4 separate regions of the Homo sapiens genome follow, and regions 2, 3 and 4 are each reported to be linked to region 1. Evidence: microRNA targets listed by miRTarBase, many of them from high-throughput screens and not tested one by one. Region 1 holds a microRNA gene; each other region holds the end of a gene's coding sequence.

What was found. Region 1 holds the annotated microRNA hsa-miR-2681-3p (UAUCAUGGAGUUGGUAAAGCAC, at 2,319-2,340, shown strand). A microRNA usually pairs through its seed, bases 2 to 8, with sites in the 3' UTR of a target mRNA and lowers its output. Matches are read on the target gene's strand: a 7mer-m8 pairs with bases 2 to 8, a 7mer-A1 pairs with bases 2 to 7 and ends in A, and an 8mer does both.
Region 2: the mRNA of BDP1 is a reported target of hsa-miR-2681-3p. Seed matches in the 3' UTR shown: 7mer-m8 at 1,109-1,115.
Region 3: miRTarBase lists SLC25A42 as a target of hsa-miR-2681-3p. Seed matches in the 3' UTR shown: 7mer-A1 at 1,564-1,570.
Region 4: the mRNA of IGF2R is a reported target of hsa-miR-2681-3p. Seed matches in the 3' UTR shown: 7mer-A1 at 3,012-3,018 and 7mer-A1 at 2,809-2,815.

Annotation. Positions count from the first base shown.
Region 1 is chr13:101,965,784-101,970,004 of GRCh38, reverse strand. MIR2681 (microRNA 2681) reads left to right here and starts at 2,259; the gene lies at 2,259-2,363. It also overlaps a transcript of FGF14 not described here.
Region 2 is chr5:71,564,107-71,568,327 of GRCh38, reverse strand. It overlaps BDP1 (BDP1 general transcription factor IIIB subunit), which reads right to left. Exons shown (of 39, transcript NM_018429.3): 39 at 508-3,574. The coding sequence ends at 3,443. Among named protein-coding and RNA genes, the nearest start is that of MCCC2, 21 kb to the left of the region's middle.
Region 3 is chr19:19,110,359-19,114,358 of GRCh38, forward strand. It overlaps SLC25A42 (solute carrier family 25 member 42), which reads left to right. Exons shown (of 8, transcript NM_178526.5): 8 at 211-2,672. The coding sequence ends at 518. Among named protein-coding and RNA genes, the nearest start is that of TMEM161A, 26 kb to the right of the region's middle. RefSeq lists a silencer at 73-262 and an enhancer at 2,602-2,896.
Region 4 is chr6:160,104,632-160,108,826 of GRCh38, reverse strand. IGF2R (insulin like growth factor 2 receptor) reads right to left here. Exons shown (of 48, transcript NM_000876.4): 48 at 1-4,153. The coding sequence ends at 3,743. Among named protein-coding and RNA genes, the nearest start is that of SLC22A1, 15 kb to the left of the region's middle.

The DNA of each region.
Region 1 (4,221 bases):
TATAAGGCAGATGACAATAAGGCCAGAAGAGAAAGCATCTGAAATGTTCTGACCCATAAATTACGAATGTTTGCTACCGGCAGGAATACTTAAAAGAAATGAACACTCAGTTTTTGCCCTTTAAAGGCACTCATTGTCAAGATATGGGGTGTTTTGTAGACTAGAACAATAGAGCAACCTCCACCCAACCTCTCCTTTCACCCCAGTCATCACAACTCAGGGCCTCATCAAATAAAAATTCCTTTTTTCTAATTGGATGCCACTTTTCTACTCTAGGCAGCAACTTGTTCATACAAAATGTAACATAAGCCAAAATTTAAAATTGGTAGAAATATGCAAATTTTGAGTTCAATTTACGGTGAAAAATAGTCTTACAAGCAGTCATGTGGATGTAGTGTGTGCAATGATAATAAGAAATGAGGGAGACCACAAGGCTATTGATTAGGGTTTCACAAATGACTCATTAGAGCCCTATTCCTTCACCAGATTGAAATATAATGTTTAGAAGGCATCAGGAAACTTCAAAGGCAGGAGTATTTTGGCTTTACCAATGACTAACAGCCAGAAACACTAGACTATACCATTTCTTTTTTTTTGTTATTTTTAGTAGAGACGGGGATTCACCGTGTTAGCCAGGATGGTCTCGATCTCCTGACCTTGTGATCCGCCCACCTCGGCCTCCCAAAGTGCTGGGATTACAGGCGTGAGCCACTGCACCCAGCCTAGACTATACCGTTTCTTATCCTTCAATCCCCAGTAACCAGACCAGATGAAGTTGTTTATTTGGTAACTTACCCACCCATGATAAGTGACAACTATGAGCTAAGTGCTGGCACAGGTAGTTATGAAGACCTAGGCAGTCCACCCCTTCACAAAGGTGGATCTAAGCATGACTCCAAGGCATGGAGCCCACTGGCCAGATTTTCCTTACCTCCCCTTCCACTGACCATCCTTGTTTCTTTCAACTAGTGAGTTCTGTGCTAGCTTCAGGCTCTAGGCATGCCCTTCTCTTCTGTCCATACCAAGGAATTGTGGATGGAAAGTGACCTGGTGATAAAAACCCATCTTCCTTAAAGTACCCTCCCTGCTTCCAAACCCCCAGCTTTTTTCAACTCAAACAATGCCCAGATTTAAAAAAAAAAAAAAAAAAGGCTGTTGATGGAATGCATGATTACAGAACAAATGAAAAGTGAGTTAAAAGAGTTGTGGGGGAACACTTAGTCTGGCAGCTGTATGATCTCACACTTTTGTGGCTGTGACTTTTGTAATTGTGGTATTCTTAAGTATAAAATACAGGAAATATTGATATTGAGGTTTTTTTTTTTTTTTTTGGAGACGGAGTCTCGCTCTGTCGCCCAGGCTGGATTGCAGTGGCACGATCTCAGCTCACTGCAAGCTCCGTCTCCCAGGTTCACGCCATTCTCCTGCCTCAGCCTCCCGAGTAGCTGGGACTGCAGGCGCCTGCCACCACGCCTGGCTAATTTTTTGTATTTTTAGTGGAGACGGGGTTTCACCATGTTAGTCAGGATGGTCTCGATCTCCTGACCTCATGATCCGCCTGCCTCGGTCTCCCAAAGTGCTGGGATTACAGGCATGAGCCACCACGCCCAGCCTAAGCTGTATTTTTTTTAATGTGTTCAGTAGCTGTTAAAATAAGATTTTGTACATCCAACAGGTAAAATATTTTGTTACTGTTCAGTATCTTGCAAAAAATATTTTTTAGACTTTTTGTCAGGCTTATTATGACATGCTTAATAAATTAGGCATAGCCATTACATAACAATTTCACCTTTATGCATTTATATGAATTTATCTTCATTTCTTAGACAAGATTTATCTACTTATAACTGCACTTTCACTCATTTGAGTAACAGAGGTTGGTTGTAGAATGTAATCAATTATAGATTCCCTTCCAAGTCATCAGTCATGCTAATAAAATGAAGACAATCATTTTAAGAATTATTTTCAAGTGTTAGCAGAGAGCTACAAATTTACAGCATGACCATTGACCCAGTGACTCATCTCCATTACAGTTATGGGTGAACTTGCAATTTGGAAATAGAAAATGTTACCTCTGTTACCAGCATGTCCAAGCCATCACCCCATTTTATCCTGGGAGTGTTCATGTATCAGATTTTCTTCCTTCTGATTAGGCAGCAGGAATTTATTGGGTGTTTAATGTGTCTAAGCCATGCAATAGGTTTTGTAGAGGATTCAATAGAGGTTAAAAAGACATCAAGAGCAAAGATATGCTCTCTGCCCCCTTTTCACGCATTTGTGTTTTACCACCTCCAGGAGACTGCCCAAAGACTCTTCAGTATCATGGAGTTGGTAAAGCACAGATGCATGAATAATTCAACGTGTAAGCTATCTAAAGAAGCACCTTGATTAGAGGAATCAATGAGAGGAGAACATTTAAAAACAGATGTGCTTACTTATGCCTTCCAGTGTTTGCATTGTTTTTCTTGTATTTTGCTTGTGTTATTCATTAGAAGGAATTAGAGGTTCCTCCCACACAGCATAAATGTTCTCACTGCATGACCTTGAAATAATCAAGCTTTGTTTATACTGCAGAAACTGATATTGGTACACATTTAGCTCAAAACAATTTTAACTTTACCACAATCAGAAGGAAAACATTATGAAAACAGTCAAGTAAACATAGGACAGTGGTTCTCTTAATGTATACAAGGATTATCTATCTGAGATTAGTTTACAAATGACTTTAGACATTCTGACTCAATAGAACACTCCACCCTCAGACATTCTTACTCAACAGAAGAAGTCACTTTGATTCGGTAGGTTTGGGATGAGCCTTGAAAAATCTGAATTTTAAGGTTCATTCTAAGTGACTGAGATGCAGGAAGCCCAAAAGCATCCTCTGGGATGTTGTGCTACAGAACCTAATGAATGTCACAGAGATGCTAGCTTTGTGCTGTTTTTCAAAGAGCTGAACAAAATAGCATTATGTCAGTCCTGGATGTTCTTATTAAAAAACTTGGTTTAGGTAACTGCTGATATCAGTTTAAACTGACAAACCAAATTCTTACACTCGTAGAGTAATATTCTTAGGCATTCCTTTAAGTTTCTTTCATTATATGAGCCGGAGTCCAGCTACAGTTCGCCAAACAATAACGAACTGTCTCACGATCCTTCTGTCTTCTGTATTTCTAGGTCGTCCCTAAGAAAGCATCAACAACTGAGTGGTTTAAACACAATGATTTGGCCAGGCGCGGTGGCTGACGCCTGTAATCCCAGCACTTAGGGAGGCCGAGGTGGGTGGATCATGAGGTCAGGGGTTCGAGACCAGCCTGACCAACATGGTGAAACCCCATCTCTACTAAAAATACAAAAATTAGCTGGGCGTGGTGGTGGGCACCTGTAATCCCAGCTACTCAGGAGGCTGAGGAAGGAGAATTGCTTGAACCTGGGAGGCGGAGGTTGCAGTGAGGCGAGATGGCACCACTGCATTCCAGCCTGGGCGACAGAGCGAGACTCTGTCTCAAAAAAACAAAAACAAAAACAAAAAAAACCACAAGATTTATTCTCTAACAGTTCTGGAATCTGAGTCCAAAATCAAGGTTTCTGCAGAACCATGCTCCCTCCAGAGTCTGTATTTGCCTCTTCCTAGTTTCTGCAAGTGGCCATTGGTCTTTGGCAATCCTTGATATTCTTTGTCTCGTAAATCATCACCCCAATTTCTGCCTTCATCTTCTCATGGTGTTCTTTTTGCATAAGTGTGTTTTCTCTGTGTCTAAATTTCCCATTTTTATAAGAACACCAGTTATATGGCAATAGAGCCCACCCTGATGACCTCATTTCAACCCACTTACCTTTGTGAAGAACCTGTTTTCAAATAAGCTTACAGTCTGAGAAAATGGAGTTTAAAACTTCAACTTATCATTTTTTAGGGAGTGGGCACAATTCAATCCAGAACATTTCCCTTCCCCTTAATTCTGTTGTTGGATATATTTAAGCACTCAGAAAAATTTAGGTACAGGAATAGAAAAGTTGATTGTGGTTCTGGTGACGGTGATGTGTGGATACATCTGGCTGACTTCTTATAAAAGTATAAAATTACCAATTATTTTTTCTTTATGGAGTGACACTTTTCAGTTGTGCCCATGAAAAATGTTTGGACTGGACTGTGTTAAATGAAGGAAACTTGCTGTAACCTCATCCTGGGGTTAAGTCAGTTCCTTAAAATTGATTGCCTTATAT
Region 2 (4,221 bases), not on the chromosome of region 1:
CCGATTTTTAGTGAAACCCAATGTAAGACAGGGCTCTCCAGCAGATTCAGGATGCGATGCTGCAGCAAACAGAGATGCTGTGTGGAGTCTCTTCCAAATACTATTAGGACAATCACATTGCAGACTCCTACAGCTTTGAAATAACGACATGCACACCTGTCAAAAATTTGTCTCCTCCCCACAAAGACAGGGTCTTCTTCTGTCATCCAGGCTGGAGTGTGGTGGGGCAATCACAGCTCACTGCAGCCTCAACCTCCTCCTGGGCTCAAGCGAACCTCTCATCCCAGCCTCCTGAGTAACTGGGACCAAAAGCACACACCACCACAGTTGGCTGATTTTTAATTTTTTTGTAGAGATGAGGTCTCATTATGTTGCCCAGGCTGGTCTTGAACTCCTGGGCTCAAGCAATCCTCCCACCTCGGCCTCCGAAAGTGCTGGGATTACAGGTGTAAGCCACGATACCCAGCCAATTCTTTATTTAGTCATCTTAAAAGGACACAACAGAAATGATATAAAATAACTTTTATTTACATAATTTATATATATATATAACTGCTTTCTTTAGAACAAGAAAATTTATAAATGACATGATATTGCTTTTTCTGTCAAAGACTTCTTCAAGCAAGATAGTATACATGGTCACTTTTGTTTCAAATAACATGATGGTAAACAGTGGATATTAATATTTTTGTCATGCCTCAACCATTTACCAACAATTAGGCGTTCAAATCCTCATGTTGACCACTTGCTAAGACATAAGTGTTCAGGAGAAAAAGTCAAGAAAAGATAAAAACTTTTACTCATATCTCCTTTAAAATTTGTGAAATAAATCCTTTGCAACATCTTCTTCACATGAATCAGACCTAACATAGTTCTTTCCAACATGTAAGGTAAATACATTGATTAACTTTCTCTTTTCCAAAATTAGGTTTAAGGATTTAACAGTAGGATACTTTAGCTGGCTGACTTGATTCTCTAATACAATGAGTCTCTGTATTCTTTATATAGTAAGAAATTCCATTTTCCATAAAACTAGCTCATTATAGATTAAAAAGAAACAGATGTTAAAGTTAAAAACTAATATTACACAAGGATAAATAATAGTTTAATCATGGCAATCTAACTCCCAAGCTAACACTAAGAGAATGAAATCTTTTCAGAATATGAGTTTTAAAAACTTACAAAAACAGGGTATTCAAATAGCAATGTGATTTACTACCATGATTTCTGTGACATATCAATCATGAAATAAATGCCTACTTATAGACAATTTCCGCTCCGAATTATATAGCCTCCTCTCTGACAAAGTGTTACGCCATAAATTTCACTAAAAGACAATGAATAAGAAGTGCTCTAACAGCAGTAGTTTCAATAAATTAGCATTACTGTTATATGTGCTGAGACATAATTCTCTTCTATTAAGGAACTTAAAAACTGGCCACCATTTTTTCAATATACAAACATAATTATCTAGACTCTAAAATATCTTCCCAACTGAAATACTGATCATTACATAATACAGTCAACAGTTTTAACTTTTAGGCACAACTCATAACTTTAGTGACAAATAACTCATCCATACAGATATCAGCACCTCAGGGTAAGAAAATTTGGGGCCTAATGTAGGGGGTCAAACTAAAAGGCCAATCCAGCCACAGTCCTTCATTCAAGTACTGTCTATGGCTTCTTTCACACTGAAATTGCAGAGCTGAGTAGCTGCCACAGAGACCATCTGGCCTGCAAACCCAAAACAGTTTGCAGAAAGTTTCCAATGCCTGAGCTACTATACTATCAATCCAAGAGGCTTTTCAAATAAAATCAGGATAAATTTGCTGTTTGAGAAGTCTAATTGGAACCACTACAGATCTGCTTGGGTAGATAATAGAATTACACGTATAAAAAATCAAATCTTGAAATTAAAACAAACCTTAAATTCATACTGATGATAATCATTAACTTTATAAAGCCTTATTTTCTCTGTTTTTAACATCATGATTATGTTCCGTGCTTAAAGATCCAAGTGTTCCTTGAGAATTTAATGGGAAAAAACTATGAAGAAATTGGCTTTTTAAAAACTAATATTATGTCTGTGGGTGTATAAAGGAGATTGAGCTTTGTATGGAAATTTTGTCTCATAAATAAAGTTGAGTTCCCCCTATCCTCATGAAAATCCTGAGATTATCCAAGAAAAGCAGAAAAATTTACAGTACAAAGTCAATATACTAAACTGAGGGGAAAAAGGTATTCAAAACATATACACCAGCTAAACATTTTTAGTTATATCATTTTAAATATCTTTAAAATTAAACAGAAAAAGGAGACAAACATAAATTTAATGCCTTCTTTATCTACAATCTGAGGGGTAAAAATAGCTAAAACTGAATATCCTTTTAAATAAAAAATTTAAAAATAAATAAGCCCTTTGATGTGTCATCTTTATAAATAATTATGTTTAAATACTAGTTTTTCAATTAGGACTAATGTTACATCACCATGAATTAGAAAAATATGTATTTTTCAGTCAGACAAACAGCTGATAATAGAAAAGTTCTTTAACATTTGCCATACTAAAGTGAAGTTTGACAATTTGTTTTCACATATAGTCACGTGTCCCTTAACTACATGTTCTAAGAATTGCCTTGTTAGGTGATCTTGTGTGAAACAACGCAGAGTGTACTTACAAACACTGAGATGGTACAGGCTGCTACACACCGTACAGACTGAGGCTATGTGGTATAGCCTATTGCTCCTCGGCTACAAACCTCTACAATGTGTTACTATGCTGAATACTGTAGGCAGTTGTAACACAATAGTAAGTATTTGTGTATCTAAACATATCTAAACATAAAAAAGCAATGCACTGTGTTATGATGGCTATAATGTCACTAGTTGATAGGAATTTATCTCCATTTTAATTGCATGGGACCACTGTAATATATGTGGTCCATCATTGACTTAAACTTCATTATGTGATACATGACTGTACTTAGAAGCAAATGAAAAAGCCTTCATCCTTCATCATCTCCCCCTAAAAATAAAAAATCTTCACAAAAGAAGTTGCTAAATGTTAAATATGATACAATTAACCCCCAAATCTGTCTGCACTGCAATTCATACAGAGACATATATCCACAACATTCCCAAATGTCCATGTGTGCTTAGCACAGGAAGAGTCAAAATGTAAACAAGAGTTGTTATTTCTGTCTGAGAAAGCAGTCTTAATTGCTTGCTATTTGCAAAATGCTGAATCAGTCAGAATGAAAGGAACCTCAGAAATGTTTTCCACTGATTATAAAAGCTTCAAATCAAGCTCATTAAGTATTCAAAATCAACCTAAAGAAAAATAAGACAGTGATATTTTGCTCTAAATACTGTTTTGTTGATGTAATTGACTCTGGAAATCCTAGACCTAATTTAAAAAAGAAAAAGAGAAAAGATTGTTTTATTCTGTTTCATCCACTTCAATGAAGATATCATTGAAGAAATATTCAGAGACTGTGGTTGCCTCCCCTTGAGGGGCCCGCTTTTGGGCACTTTTATATCCTTCTTTCAGTAAGGGCTGATCACAAGAAACCTAAAAAGGTAATAAAAATAAAGTAAAAATAAAACTGTAATACAACATTTATATATATATGTGTGTGTATATATAGCAGTCTAAACCAATATGATCTGTTTGAAAAGCAACGTGGCAATAAATATTGAGCTTTAAATATGTTCACAATCACTGACCCAAAAATTTCACTTCTATGCTGTTACATTAAGTAAATAATCCTAAACATAGTAGGAGTTTTATGACTAAGATAACCTTTGTAGCATTAGTTATAATAATAAAATAGGAAGCAACTAAATATACCACACTAGATATAATTAGGTAAATTACAGTGTACCCATAATCCATTACTTCATCCTAATTTCCATGAAAAATTTTAATAAAGAAAAATATAATATGGTTAAATCTGTCACTAAATAAAGTAAAAATACTTTAATTATTTGCATAATAGACAGACCCATGACAAAACAGCACCTAAAGAAAACATATCAAAGATACCTTATCAGAAATTAGCATACTTACAAATCTATAAACAAATTAAGACAGCATGGTATTGGCACACGAATGACAGATATATCAATGAAACAGAAGACTAGAAATAACCCCAATATATATAGAAATTTAGCATCTGATAAAAGTGCCATATCAAAAACAGTTATTGTATTATTAAA
Region 3 (4,000 bases), not on the chromosome of region 1:
TTTTATTTCTCGAGTTTGAGTGAAAGGAGCGACCCGGAGGTGAGGCAGTGGGGCGTGTGGGTGCGCATGAGTGCGAACACACGTGGGGGTGCAAGTGCATGTGTGTATGTGCACGCAGGTTGCTCCTAGGGGTGCAAAGGCGCGCGCACGGGTGCGGGGTGCGCGCCCCCTCGCGGCGCCTTCACGGCCCTCCCGCCCCTCGCCCTGCAGAGTACAGCGGCCGCCGGCAGCCCTACCCCTTCGAGCGCATGATCTTCGGCGCCTGCGCTGGCCTCATCGGGCAGTCGGCCTCGTACCCGCTGGATGTGGTGCGGCGGCGCATGCAGACGGCCGGCGTCACGGGCTACCCGCGCGCCTCCATCGCCCGCACGCTGCGCACCATCGTGCGGGAGGAGGGCGCCGTGCGCGGCCTCTACAAAGGCTTGAGCATGAACTGGGTCAAGGGTCCCATCGCCGTGGGCATCAGCTTCACCACCTTCGACCTCATGCAGATCCTGCTGCGGCACCTGCAGAGCTAGGGGACCCTGAGCTGCTCTCAGGACGGTGGACCGGTGACCCCTTTGTATTCTGGGCCCATGGAACGGTGGGGGGGTGCGCTTGATTCTACTTCAGGAGGCACATGGGGCGCTTTATGGAACGAGCAGGTGGGCCTGAGGGGCCTGGGCTCAGAGTCCACGTCCAAACGCAAAGCTGGCAGCCCTGGAAGTGCAGTGTTGGGGCGATGGTGTGGGGGGTCCCGCAGCTCCCCTCTTCCTTCCTCTGCAGACGCTGGCGCTGTCTGCCGGAGGTGTTGCCCAAAAGGCCCTAGTGGGGCGTGGTCAGCTCCACCTCCTGATCCTGTGTGTCCTCCGACATGCTGCTGATTCTAGTGACCCCTGTCCCCACCAGGCTCAGAGCCAGACCGCGCCTGGACCTTCTTGTTCTGACTCCACGTGCCTGCCCGGCCTCCAGGGTGCGGGGGCGCCTTTCTTGCAGGCGGACCCTGCCCAGGATGGGGCCAGCCTCGTGCTCAGCTTTGGCCACAAATGCAGCCCCTGGCCCACCCCACCCTGCCGGCCCTGCCTTCTCCAGTATTTCCCACATGGCCACGACTCCTCAGTCACTAGAGCCTCCTGCTGGGAACAGTGTCCCCCAGAGCCTCATGTCTATCCTAGACCCTGCAAGCAGCTGGGTCCCCAAGAGTGCATCTCCCCCTAGAGTTGCCTGCCCATGCCCACCTGCTTTGTAACCTTCCCAGGAGATTCATGCTTGCTCTGCACAGCAGGGCTCGAGGCCCAGGCCATGACACGGAACTGCCTCAGGTTTGGGTCAGACCTGCATCCTGGGGCATCTGCTGAAATGTGAGCACACAAACCACCTCCTTTGGCCCAGAAGCCCCCCAGGCCTAGCATCTCAGTGCCCCAACCCTCTGCCCAGCTGTGGTATCCAGCAGGTCCTTGGGTCCCCACTTGAGCAGGCACTTGGCTGGGATATGGAGCAATTTAAAGCCCACAGGGGTTGTTCAGTTTCTATGAAATGGAGCATGGGGTGCCTGCTAGCCTCAATCCCCCGAAGTGGGAGCCTCATGATAGAGTATAGCTTGGGGGTGGGAGGTGAGGAAAATCTGAGGTACCCAGGGGAACCCCCAGCTAACTGGTCTCTCAGAGGAGTCCCCCAGGGCCCGCCAGCTATCACAGGGACTCAGAAACACCCATTTCCTAATGACATGGTGAGTTTCTTGATTTCTTTTTTTTGTTTGTTTTGTTTTGGTTTTCAACTTGGCTGACCCCGGGTCTATGATCTATTCACATCGAACCCCTGACTGGTCTGCCTGGTGCCAGGGTGAGCGTGACCGTGAGTGTTGCTTTCGACAGCTGGCTCAGCACACGCTGTGTGAAGGGATCTGAGCTTGTTCATCTCCAGTCGTGACTTCATTTCCCTTCCTTCTGTCCTCCTCCTGTTCTTGCCTTGGACCTGCAGGTGTGCAGACCGCTCTCTCTGCCTTCCTTGCATGTGGCCACCAGCCATCCCTGATCTTGTCCCCAGAGGCCCAGGCAGCCTGTGATGGCTGTGAGGGGCTGTCCCACTGTGTGGGTATCCCTTACCCAGCACTTAAACTTGGCAGGAGAGGCAGGGCAACCCTCACAGGGAGATGGGAGGGCACCCAACTCCCACAAGCATGCAACAGCAGTAGGAATTGGGGGTCTGCCCCAGGTGGGTGAGACCAAATGAGTGGATTTGGGGCCACAGGCTAGGCAGGAGAGACAAGGGGTAGGTGGGAGGGTCCCCCAGTCCCTGCTGACCCCAGTGTGTCTCCCCGGAGATGGCTCCTAGCTGAGTGGGACCCGGCAGGAGTTGGGGACAGTGCTGTCCCCCACCCCTGCACACAGCCAGGCCCTCAGGCTCTGCGGTCACTCGCCTCCCTGCTGGTCACTGGTCTTGGTCTGGAGTTATATTTTGATGCCATGAAGACACTGTTTATATCTAATGTTTATATATTTTAAAGATTTGTGCCAAGAGAGTATATTTAATAAAAACTTAAATGACTTCTTCTCCTGCTCCTGGCTCTTCTTTGGCTCTGACCGCCCCCCCATCTTCCCCCATGAACCCCCAAACAGGGTTGAAGTGCTTTTGACACATTTGTGATAAAAGTTCTGAATAAAAGTCTTGAATAAAGAAGTTTTTAAATGCAATTGTTGTTTGAATTAATACATACCACAATTTTCCAGAAAACACCAGCTGTCCACAAGGGTTTACAGTGAAAAGTAGGTGAACAGTTCCCTCTGCAGGGGGCCTCCTGTGACCATTTTCTCTTGTCTCCTCCCACAGAGATTCTGTGCATACACTCATCCCTTTCAGGATATATGTGGCCACCCACAAAGGCAGGAGGGGCCGTCTCTGTGCAGCCAGCACAGCCCAAAGTCTCATGGGCTTGAACATGGCCTTCCTTCCCAAGAGCCCTGCACTCTGGGGCTGGCTGAGGCTTCAGGCCTGAACGTCAGTCACCATCTGCAGGGGCAGCCACCAGAGGGTCTCCAGTGGCAATCCTGGCTCACTTCACCTGCAGCCCATTGGCCAGAGCAACTTGGAGGACCCACCCACTGCCAGGCCAGAAGTGGGAGCCTCTGCGTGCCCAGAGAGGAGGGGCGGCTGGGCCAGCACAGGCCTGGTGCTCTTGTTGGGGTGGGAGTAGGAATAAGTTCCACTGCGCTGACCCCCCACTGCTCTCCAATCTGCTCACGTGCAACAGGATTTCTTTTGAGTTGGTCTCCGTTGTGCACATTGTTCAGCAGCTGTGCGGTTTTCTCCTAGAGGATCCCCAGGATGACATTTACCAGGGTGGGTGTGGTGGCTCATGCCTGTAATCCCAGCACTTTGGAGACTGAGGCAGGTGGCTTGCTTGAGCCCAGGAGTTTGAGACCAGCCTAGGCAACACAGTAAGACCCCCCATCTCTACAAAAAAATAGAAAAATTAGGCCGGATGCAGTGGCTCACGCCTTTAATCCCATCACTTTGGGAGGCCAGGGCAGGTGGATCACTTGAGGTCAGGAGTTCAAGACCAGCCTGGCCAACATGCTGAAACCCCCATCTCTATTAAAAGTACAAAAATCCTAGCTACTCAGGAGGCTGAGGCAGGAGAATTGCTTGAACCTGGGAGGCGGAGGTTGCAGTGAGCCGCTGCACTCCAGCCTGAGTGACTGAGAAGTCTCCGTCTCAAAAAAAAATTTTTTTTTAATTAGCCAGTCTTGGAGGTGCGTGCCTGTAGTCCCAGCCACTCAGAAATTCACGCCTCCCTTATGTTACCAAACCAGGCTCGTTCTGCCCAGCAGTATGCCAACAGAGATGACAGGTTTTGCAGCAAAGAGTTTATTCACGAGGCAGCCGAGTGAGGAGACAGGAGAACAGATCTCAAATCCGCCTCCCTGAAGATGGGATTTTAGGAATATTTAAGGGATAGAGGAGCAAGGTGGTCAGAGACGTGGGGAAAAGTGGGGCAGTCGGGGAACCGTGCGTGCGTAGT
Region 4 (4,195 bases), not on the chromosome of region 1:
CCTTTAATCCCAGCTACTAGGGAGGCTGAGGCAGGAGAATCCCTTGAACCCGGGAGGCAGAGATTGCAGTGAGCCGAGATCATGCCACTGCACTCCAGCCTGGCAACAGAGCGAGACTCCATCTCGAAAGAAAGAGAGAAAGAAAAAGAGAGAGAGAGAAAAGGAAAGAAAGAAAGAGGAAAAAGGAAGGAAAGGAAAGGAATGAAAGGAAGGAAACGAAGGAAAGAAAGACCTGACTTCCTCCCAGAGAGAGCCTCGCAGGCAGTCTGAGGCTTCTCAGCTCAGCACAGCCACAGCTCCCATGCCCAACCTCCCATCTGGTTGCTGAAGCGTCTCCATCTCTTTACTTTCATCTAGACTATCTTGCTCAAAAGCCCAATCTGGCCCTCCTACAGCTCTCAACTGCTTTCAGGACTTCAAACTCCTTACTGTGACAGTCACAACAGGCTCCAAGTTCTGGGCTTGCTTCTGCCTTACCTATCCAACACCCCCAGGCCATACTGTCCCCAACTCAATGTGGCTATCTTGCCGCCTTGCACACAAGCTCACCTGCACCACGACTGCCCGTTGACCCCATTCTCACAGAACAATGTCCAGAACTGACAGCAAGTATGGCTCAAGAGGCCAACTACTAGTCAACAGAGTGGAACCGGAGAAGTAAGAAAGGACATGAGTGTACCTCCCTGAGCCATGGGATTCTTCAGAGTCAGTAAAGGATATTTCCAGAAATCCAGTCTCGTCCATACAACCTCCTGGTGACACACACACTGGCTCCTTGTGACCCGATCGCCAACAGGGGTAAGACCTGTGTACCCATCAGTGCTTTAACTTGTACAATGGATCGGACCAGCCCAAAGTGTTCTTTAATCACCAGGTGGCATCTTAGTCGTGTGAAGGTCCTTGTTTGTAGGAATGCCTGGTGATGGGAAGAAACTTCATCTCAAATGATTCAGGGAAAAAGAGTTCTTTGTCCTGTAAGTTCTAATGTCTATATGTTGTCTCCTGTCTGTATGTCTATATGTTCCTTCCTGAGGAATCATCTCGTGTTACGTATTATTTTAGGGTTGGTGAAGTACAGGCTTCAGATGCTCTTAAAATGTTCATAAGAACCAGATTTCCACTTCACTGTGGATTTCCTTGGTGTGGGGTTTGCCTATTCCATCTTTAGCACCCCAGTTCTTATTCTATGTCTCTGTCATTCATGGACAGTCTCAAGAAAGGGGCACAAAAAATTTTGTTGAAAGGAAGCTAAATACCCAGGTTGTACTCCATCAATAAAATCATTTCTCTGAAAAAGAGTCCAATTCTGATTTGCTGTCACGGGATGTTTTCCTAAAAATATCATCTGTAACAACAGCTGGCAAGTAGTTACTCTTTTTTCAGAGGCTTGGGTTTCTAAGAGTCAAAGCAAATGCACTCAAACGTGTTGTCACTTCTCCTTCCCCACTGACAGCGACATTAGCAGGCAGCCAGTGGTGCAGACAACATGCCTTTTTGCCATCCAGCTTACCAAGGGGATGGGCAGGTCCCTGCATATGCCCCTCCTTACAGAGAGGGCTCCCCATGGTCTTAGCAGGAGGTGGGAATGGCCTGGAGAACAGCCCCCTGGGTAGAATGCCTGAGGACCAGCATCTTTCTTTGGTCATAATGTAAACTTTTAGAAGACCTGACATGTCTTCCTCAGGAGAGGTATTGGAAAGTCCTTAAGAATAACTTTTTTAAAAAGGTAACTCCAATTGGATAATTTAAAAATGAGACGGTTGAGGTTTTTGGACTCTACAGGAAAAAAAAAGGGATGGAGAATAGGATGTTGAGTCTAAGAAGTTTGTTTATAACACTGGAGTAACTTCCTGCTTCCATGCAGGTAGCTCTCAGTCACTGCTGAGTAATTTAAGATGGAAAACTCAGTGAGTTTACTCAAGAGAAAACATCTCCATGTTAGATCAGGTTGCACAAAAAAAAGCTTTATTGACTCACTGGACTCTAAACTCCATGTTCATTGTTTTGATGAACAGGACCACACCCCGAGGTTGGCCTGGAGAAGGTAAAGAAATCGGATCTAGAAAGAGCCAAGGGAAGGCAGATTGGACCCAAAGTTAACACCTACGACCAGGAGACTCTGGAGAAAAATGAAAGTGCTGCCTCATAAAGGGTCAACGAGAACACCAGAGTTAAAACCCAAATTCAGTCACTTAACAGAAAGAAAAGACAGGCAGGCAGATGGGTAACTCGCTCGGGAACGTCTCACTATCAAGGAAAAAATGGTAACACCCAATTAATAATTTATCTTTTATTGAAATTGTTGAATACTTTATATTACAGTAAAGTTGATTGAAAAAAAAATGAAGAGAAAAATCAATTTTAAAAAATACACTCATGTTGAAATCAAACAAGCCAGCCAAACCGGTACAGGCTGAGGGATGCTGCAGGGCGGTTTGCTTCTCAGCAATAGAACACCAGAGTCTATATACAATTCTACAATGCGAGAAAAGTCATTCACTAAACATGGCAGGAAAGGCGCTGCCGCCAGAATAAGAACACCAGCAGCGCCTCCCTCCTCCTCCATGCTGTGACCGCCCGGCCTCCCTCCTCCTCCACGCCATGCCCGCCTGGCCTCCCTCCTCCTCCGCGCTGTACCCGCCCAGCCTCCCTCCAGCATGAGGCCAAGTGCAATGCTAGGGCCGAGGCTCTGGCCCATGATTTTTCATGCAGTTTCTGTAAGTCACACACTGTGCAAATTAAGGCTTCTTATAGGTCGAATGGTTGATCAACACTTTTTTCTTAAAAAAATAAGCACAGTAAAGGTGGTATCATGAGAACCTGAAGAGATGAGACCTATACCCCAAATCTGGAAAAAATTCATTTTCTCTGACACCTCAACTCCACTCACACACACACACACACACACACACACACACACAAACACACAAATCAATCTTTGGGCAGGTTGTTTGAATTCACCAGCCGGCAAAAATACTGACAAATGTGCTCTGTACGCCCAGGCTTGAAGATATCATGCAAAAAGGTGCAGCCATTCCTGACTAAAGGCATAGAACAGGCAAACTCTCCAAAACCTAGGCACTCGGGGACCCTGTGCACGTATGTGTGTGTGTGCTCGCACGCACGTGTGTGTGCCCTTAAGAAACAGAAAGCAAAAGAGAAAAGAGACAGAATGAGCTCCAACTCAGGGGACACATTAATGACCAGTTCAACATCCCGCCGGAAGCTGCCCCATACACTGACAGCCTCACCATCTCAAGATGGACAAACTGGTACATCACACCCCTGCTGGCAGGAAGAAACGGTGGCTGTTTTTTTTTCCTTTTTCTCAAACCTGAGTAATTGTCAAAGTCAATAAATAGGGGGAGAGAATTAAAATGCTAAAATATATCGGGGTCAAATACCCTATCGGGACTAAAGCAGCAAGGGTTTCTTCGAATGCAGCCCTCTGTTTTGAGATGCGTCCGGCCTTATGCTTTTAAATGAGGACTTGGGGCAAAACCCTGGGCACAAGGTACCGCCCTGTGGCCGATCTGAGCCATGCCTTATTCCAATGACTGTAAACAATCAGGAAGGAGTGGGGCCTGACCTCCTTCACCCTCTCCCCCATCACAAAAACTCTTCCCTTTTGAAAGTTTCTGTTAAAGGCAAAATTATAGAAGCATCATCGAGTGGAAGTCTTATTTGGTTGGAGGTGCTTGGCTGTCCCGCGGCTCCGTGCTCCCCTGCAGGCACTGCGGAGTCAGATGTGTAAGAGGTCCTCGTCGCTGTCGTCATGGAAGGACACCAGCTTGGTGGAGCTCACTGTCTTCTGCTGTGCAGAGCTGGACTTCCCTTTCCTCGCCTTCTCACCCCTGACCAGCCCCACCCTATCGTCCTCACGCTCCTGAAGGGCATTGCTCTGTGCGTTTCTCACTGGGTGGGAGCTCTCTGCCCCAGCTCCCCTGCCCGAGTGAACTTTCACCTCTGGGATGGTCAGAACCTCATCCTCACTGTCCTGGTCATCCCCATGCAGGGAGCTGAGGGCTTTCACTGACTTGGTGGTAATATGGCCGTTCTCCTGCCCTTCCTTTCCCTGCCGTGGAGGAGGCAGCTGGATCTCTTCCATCAGCCACTCTGTTTCATTCTCATCTGTCTCTTCTTCCTTATTCACCTGCCAGGGATCAACAGCAGAGACCACGTGAGCCCCCTAAGA